Linked DNA regions of Homo sapiens: region 2 is linked to region 1. The links come from fine-mapping of genetic effects on gene expression. Tissue or cell type: cerebral cortex. Region 1 holds a variant in brackets; the other region holds the start of a gene. All regions are shown on one strand. Distances are from middle to middle.

What was found.
Region 2: SLC7A11 starts here. The variant in region 1 is fine-mapped to the expression of SLC7A11 in cerebral cortex (GTEx, PIP above 0.99). The same link has a PIP of 0.9 or more in nucleus accumbens.

Annotation. Positions count from the first base shown.
Region 1 is chr4:138,308,055-138,310,980 of GRCh38, reverse strand. All of the region lies in intron 1 of LINC00498 (long intergenic non-protein coding RNA 498), which reads left to right. LINC00499 (long intergenic non-protein coding RNA 499) reads right to left here and starts at 1,270. Exons shown (of 3, transcript NR_051987.1): 1 at 1,134-1,270. The variant G/T (reference allele first, on the strand shown) is at 1,315.
Region 2 is chr4:138,240,550-138,243,475 of GRCh38, reverse strand. SLC7A11 (solute carrier family 7 member 11) reads left to right here and starts at 1,127. Exons shown (of 12, transcript NM_014331.4): 1 at 1,127-1,683. The coding sequence starts at 1,407. RefSeq lists enhancers at 873-1,112, 582-1,781.

The DNA of each region.
Region 1 (2,926 bases):
AATTTGCTAATTCATATGTATCCATTTCAGTTACCATGATTTAGTTAAATAACACCAGTCCCTCAATAGCATGGTTCACGTTTCATTAACTATGGTATATTAACTGCAATTTCATGAAGTTCTAACCTCACTGATAGCACTTCAGTTCAGAAATCACTACATAAATATCAGATGCACATCATGATGAGTGACGGATCACCTCAGTATGGCTACTGCACATCTGTTACTCAGTTACCACCCAGCAAAGCATGTAATTGTGTTGCCTCCATGTCTTCCCATGATAAACTCACATGACATTTTACAAAACGGATGATTAAAAGAAGGAATTGTGCAACAGACGAAAGTGCAGCCAAGAAATGAAAAGCAATAATGCTGGATGTGAAATTAGATCCGATAAGAAGACAGCTGACTATGGAATATTGACATTGCTGTCATTTCAGTTTCTAGGTATGAGGCCACAGAAATTTACTAAAAGAGAACTTAACATAAATGAGAAAGGTAGTTGTGATGAACAGAATGAAGATGTCCTAGAGGAAGTAGTGCTGGCAGAAAATTTTCACGTTAGAAAAAACTCTTGGAGGTGTTTCAAGACACTGAAAGAACGAAGAATACAATGCGGGAAGCCGATCCGAACTTAGAAAAGCGTATGATAATTCGCCAGTGCGTAAAGAAAGATGGTGCTCCACATTGTTAGTTACATGACAAGGAGGCAAGCATGGTTTAAACTACTTTTGATAAGTTTTTATGAAAAGTAACTTCAGTTTTAAACATTTCTCATGTTTTAAGTTATATTGTACTAGGTATTAGTTTTACTATTTTTATTTGCTTGTACCTTTGTCAATGACAGCAAGAAAGATTTTGATGTTTTGGCAAAACTTTTTAAAGGCCAAGGCCCAATCATTAGTTTTCTCATTGATTATTAAGATTGCTTTGCGCAATCATCTTTGCAGTCCCACACTATCGTGCTTGTACTGAGGATTATCTGTACCTTATTTACTGTTACATAGTAACTTCAATACTGTCTCATTTAGTCCTCACAATAACTTGCTGAATGAAGCATGCATTATTATTTGTATTTAACAGAAAAGAGAGACTTTAGAGAAATCAAGAAATATGTTTAAATTTATGCTTACTCTTGGCTGAGCTGTGGTCCTGCAGTTGTCCCGTATTCTCTCTTCACTACAACGCTGCAGAGACTTATTCCCCTAAGCTGCCCTGTCCATCAGACAAGCACACCATGCCCGTTACATTCCCAGAGTTCCAGTTATATCCCCTCCCACCCAGGGGCTCCTCTGTTTTGCAGGGTTCACTGTG[G/T]TCTCAATCTGGGTCTTGCCTTTGTAGATCAATCGCTCTTTTGTTTCTCTACTATTCAGGGCATATTGTTGTTGCTGTTTTAAAAACATCTGACTCTCTCTTTTCTAATGAAACTGATTGTGTGTTTTTCCACAAGGCCAGACTCTCCTTTCCTATGATCAAATAATTAAAGGCAATGAATTAATGGAAGAAGCTTGCCGACCCCTTCCAGTGACCATTGGAATCCCAAGACTTCATTCCAGTCCTTTTTCTTCCTCAATCATCAAGCCCATCACTTTTTTCTTCTTACGTCTTGTGGATTTGTCTCTGCTCTCAATCTCTGTTTCTAGATATAAATTTAAACATTCATCATCTTTGCTGTAGTATATTCGTTTATTTTATAAACGCTGATAACACTATGTTCCAGACATTCTTTTAAGTGCTTTACAGCTTTACAAATATTAGTTTATTTAAAACCTCTTAACAGCTACATGAGGCAGATACTATATTATCATTCCCATTTATAATTGAGAAACTGAGACAGAGGCTTAAAGTAACTTTCCTAAATTCATACACCTGGTAAGTGATAGAGAAAGGATTTGAAACCAGGCAGTCTAACTGCAGAATCCATGCTTTAGGCACTGTTTTAGAATGTATCTCATTCATTCATACATTCATGCATTTATCCATTTAGCAAACATTTATTAAGTGCTTATCGTATCAAATACTGTAATAGAGAAGAAAGAAATGTATAAAAAATAAGTGGAGAAATGTTTTATAGGTTACATCACAGGTCAGGGTTAAAGTAAAGACACTAAGGAGTGAGCGGTCAAGTCTAAACAAGAAAGGCAGAGAAGAAATTTAAAATAGATGAGTCTTGAAATATGTGTGGGCAGTTACCTGGGAAACAGAACACTGCATTTTAAGGGCAAGAGCATTTTAAAATAGAGGGAGGGCTGATAACAAAGGCATGGAGGCATGAATAAACTGGTATGTTTGAGCCACTTCCACGTGGTTGAAGCAAGGATTGAGGTAGGGTTTAAAGTGAGACGAAAGGTTGAAAACACAGGAAAGACCCAACGTCAGGGGCAAGGACTTGGTGGTTCTGGCAATGAAACTTGAGTGTACATCTGACTCATGCGCTTCTGCCTGGGGCAACACAATTAGACTGTAGGAAGCTAAAACAAGGGAACTTGTATTCTAAACAAATCACCAAGTTTATTTTGGGGTAAAATAGTTTGAGAGCCACTGCTGCAGGTACGCCAGGCCTCCGTGATCTGGCTTCCGGTTTGAGTACTCTGCAGAGCACTTCACAGACAGCTTCATTCTGCACCATGGGAGATTGAGCTTTCCTCTTAACAGAACGAGTCCATTCTTATTCATTTCTCCATTGGAAAAACCAGTACTTGTGGAGTGACTCCATGTTAAATTCCTTCTGTATAGAGAAGCATATCTTGGTTCAATTTTACATAATTTCACCATGCTAGGCACTTTGAGTTATTGCAAAGATGAGAAAAAAATAGATTTGGCTTTTAGCAGCTCAACATCTAGTCATCCCCAATCTATTTTTCATATCTCATTATAAGAGTGTGATCATTTTAAAAATTTGCATAAGAGATCTTAAATAATATAT
Region 2 (2,926 bases), 68 kb after region 1:
AATTCTTCTCACTGAATCCAAAACCACATGTAACTATAGCCAAAAATGATATCTAGGATTTCTTTTCTTTTCATATTTGTTTTTTCTTGACACTTGGTTGAGAAAGTTAGAAGGGTTTAAAAATGTTTTGCCTTTTTGACTATTGCAAAGTAAATATTTTAATTTAGCTTACATTTTTAATGCATTTTAAATTTATAATAATAACAATAGTTTATATAATGTGGAAAAAAGTCATACATAATATCATTACTTTCTATAACTACCATTCTGTTTTCCTTTACAGGCTTTTGCTATATACATATTTTTATGTAATTGTAATTGTGTAATTTTGAACTTAGAAATTTTTTTTGGTAATTCAAAGGAACAACATGACAATGAAGGATATGTATCTTTTACATAGTTCAAAAAAATCACCTAGTGCTAATGAGAATCAGAAAATGACTATTTTCTGGAGTCATGGTGAATTTTGTATTAGTCACACTCGGATGGTGATTTAAAATACTGGTTTATTATGAGTAGTAAGAAATAATTTTATCTTTTAATGTTGAGGAAGGCTTATAGTTGTGTGTATGTGACAGAAGTATAAAGTGTAGAATCTTTAATTTTGTAAATATTGGATTTGACTGTATTGCCTTATAAAAAACTCAAAATAAAAAAATAAAAAGCATTACACAAATTATGAAATTCAAACTGTGTTGTTATAAACAATGTAGCTTTAGGATACATTCTACTCACAAAACAGTCGCATGTAAAATGTTTTTATACACGCATTAAAGAAAAAGAAACTCCTTAAAATGAAGTAACTATTTCCTGTTTCATTTTGTTTGAACAGCTTTTGTTGCTCACTACGAGTTGCTTTAAATCTCTGGGAAGGTCTGTTCCGAATTTACTACTTCTGGATTGGCTAAAATCTCTTTAAAGTGTGTGCTTTGTTCTCTAAAAAGCTTAGGTCAGTTGAGCAACAAGCTCCTCCTGTTTTTTTCTTTTTTTAAAAAAAAGAGCTGAGTAATGCTGGAGGCTTCTCATGTGGCTGATGCAAACCTGGAGAATTTGCATCATCATTTAGCTGTAGTAAGTTGGTGTGACAGGCAGGCGCTTAAATACAAGCCCATGAGGAAGCTGAGCTGGTTTGTAATGATAGGGCGGCAGCAGCAGCAGCAGCAGCAGTGGTGGAACGAGGAGGTGGAGAATTGAGAGCACGATGCATACACAGGTGTTTCTGAGTAGTAATTAGATCGCTGTGAAGGAAAAAGCACACCTTTGAGTTTTCACCTGTGAACACTATAGCGCTGAGAGAGACAGTCTGAAAGCAGAGGAAGACATCGATCAGTAACACCAAGAGACACCAAAGTTGAAAGTTTTGTTTTCTTTCCCTCTGTTTTATTTTTCCCCCGTGTGTCCCTACTATGGTCAGAAAGCCTGTTGTGTCCACCATCTCCAAAGGAGGTTACCTGCAGGGAAATGTTAACGGGAGGCTGCCTTCCCTGGGCAACAAGGAGCCACCTGGGCAGGAGAAAGTGCAGCTGAAGAGGAAAGTCACTTTACTGAGGGGAGTCTCCATTATCATTGGCACCATCATTGGAGCAGGAATCTTCATCTCTCCTAAGGGCGTGCTCCAGAACACGGGCAGCGTGGGCATGTCTCTGACCATCTGGACGGTGTGTGGGGTCCTGTCACTATTTGGTGAGTGCGACTTTTTCTCTCGTGGGGGCGTGGCTGTGGGGCTGGAAAGCTTGCTTTCTGGGAAAGCAAATGGTAGTTTTTGAGGAGTGAATGGATGGCAAAGGCCACACCAAATTTTTAAAATTTTTGTTCGGGTACGTGAACTACCCAGATGCAGCATCCGCTGTTGGTGTGATCTGGAACACCCTCAAATTGCTTCCTACAGGCTGTACTTTCTTTTCCTGACTAAGACAGGCTATCTTCTGACTTTTCTCTGTGGTGATGAGAGCAAAGGCTAACTTTCATGACCCAGTAAAAAACATGCACACTTTCTGTGCCGGGCAGTTGTACACTTAGCTTGGGCATTCTGGCAGCTGGCATGCTGAATGAGACACCTGTGAAGTGGAACCTGGCATGGGCTATTTAGACATAGAACGGAGTGTTCAGCAGAAGTCTTACTGACTTTTTATTAGCCAAACAAATGGGTGGCAGTCTTTATAAAAATATTTTTTAAGTTCATGTGCTTGTCACCTCTTAATATCCTTTCAAAAGTCCTTGACATGGGAGAGATGTATGATGGCGCATAACTCAATCCCTATCATAATGGGGTATATTGCAATGGCCTGAGCATATTTCAAATTACTTTTCAACCTTTCATCTCTTCTCAATACCCATACACTTTTGCAATATAAGTTTTAAAACTTCAGTTGGGCGTTAGTTTTCTGTACTTGCCCAGATCTGTTTTTTTCATTATATTTCACTTGTTCTCCAGGGACACAGAGAATTTGTCCACCTGTTCACTAAATTAATCTGAAGGGAACTGGCAGAAGTATAATTATGAATTTTTCTTCAAAGTTTATGTCTCTTCTATTGATCTGAGAATTAATAGTAAAGAGGTAAATAAATGCCCCCTTATGGAGTAGGCAAATTACTAGAGAGCTACCTGAGTTTGTTGTAAAGATGATAAAAACTGGTGAACTGTCAAACATTAAATTTGATTTATGCTATGAGGATTTATTTACTCTTCTTGGGAAAGATTCTGTACTTTAAAGTTGCTCTTTGTCTTAACTCTGGGACTAACACTAACTAACAAGTACTAACGCTAACTCTAGGACTAATTAACAAGTACTAACTCCTGTTCCCATGTGTACCAATCAATTCATTCTTTCTACTCAGGCCTTGTGATGTTTTAAATCATTGGTTTGACACTCATCTAGAGAACTCAAATTCCATTTTTTTTTTTTTTTTGAGACAGAGACTCGCT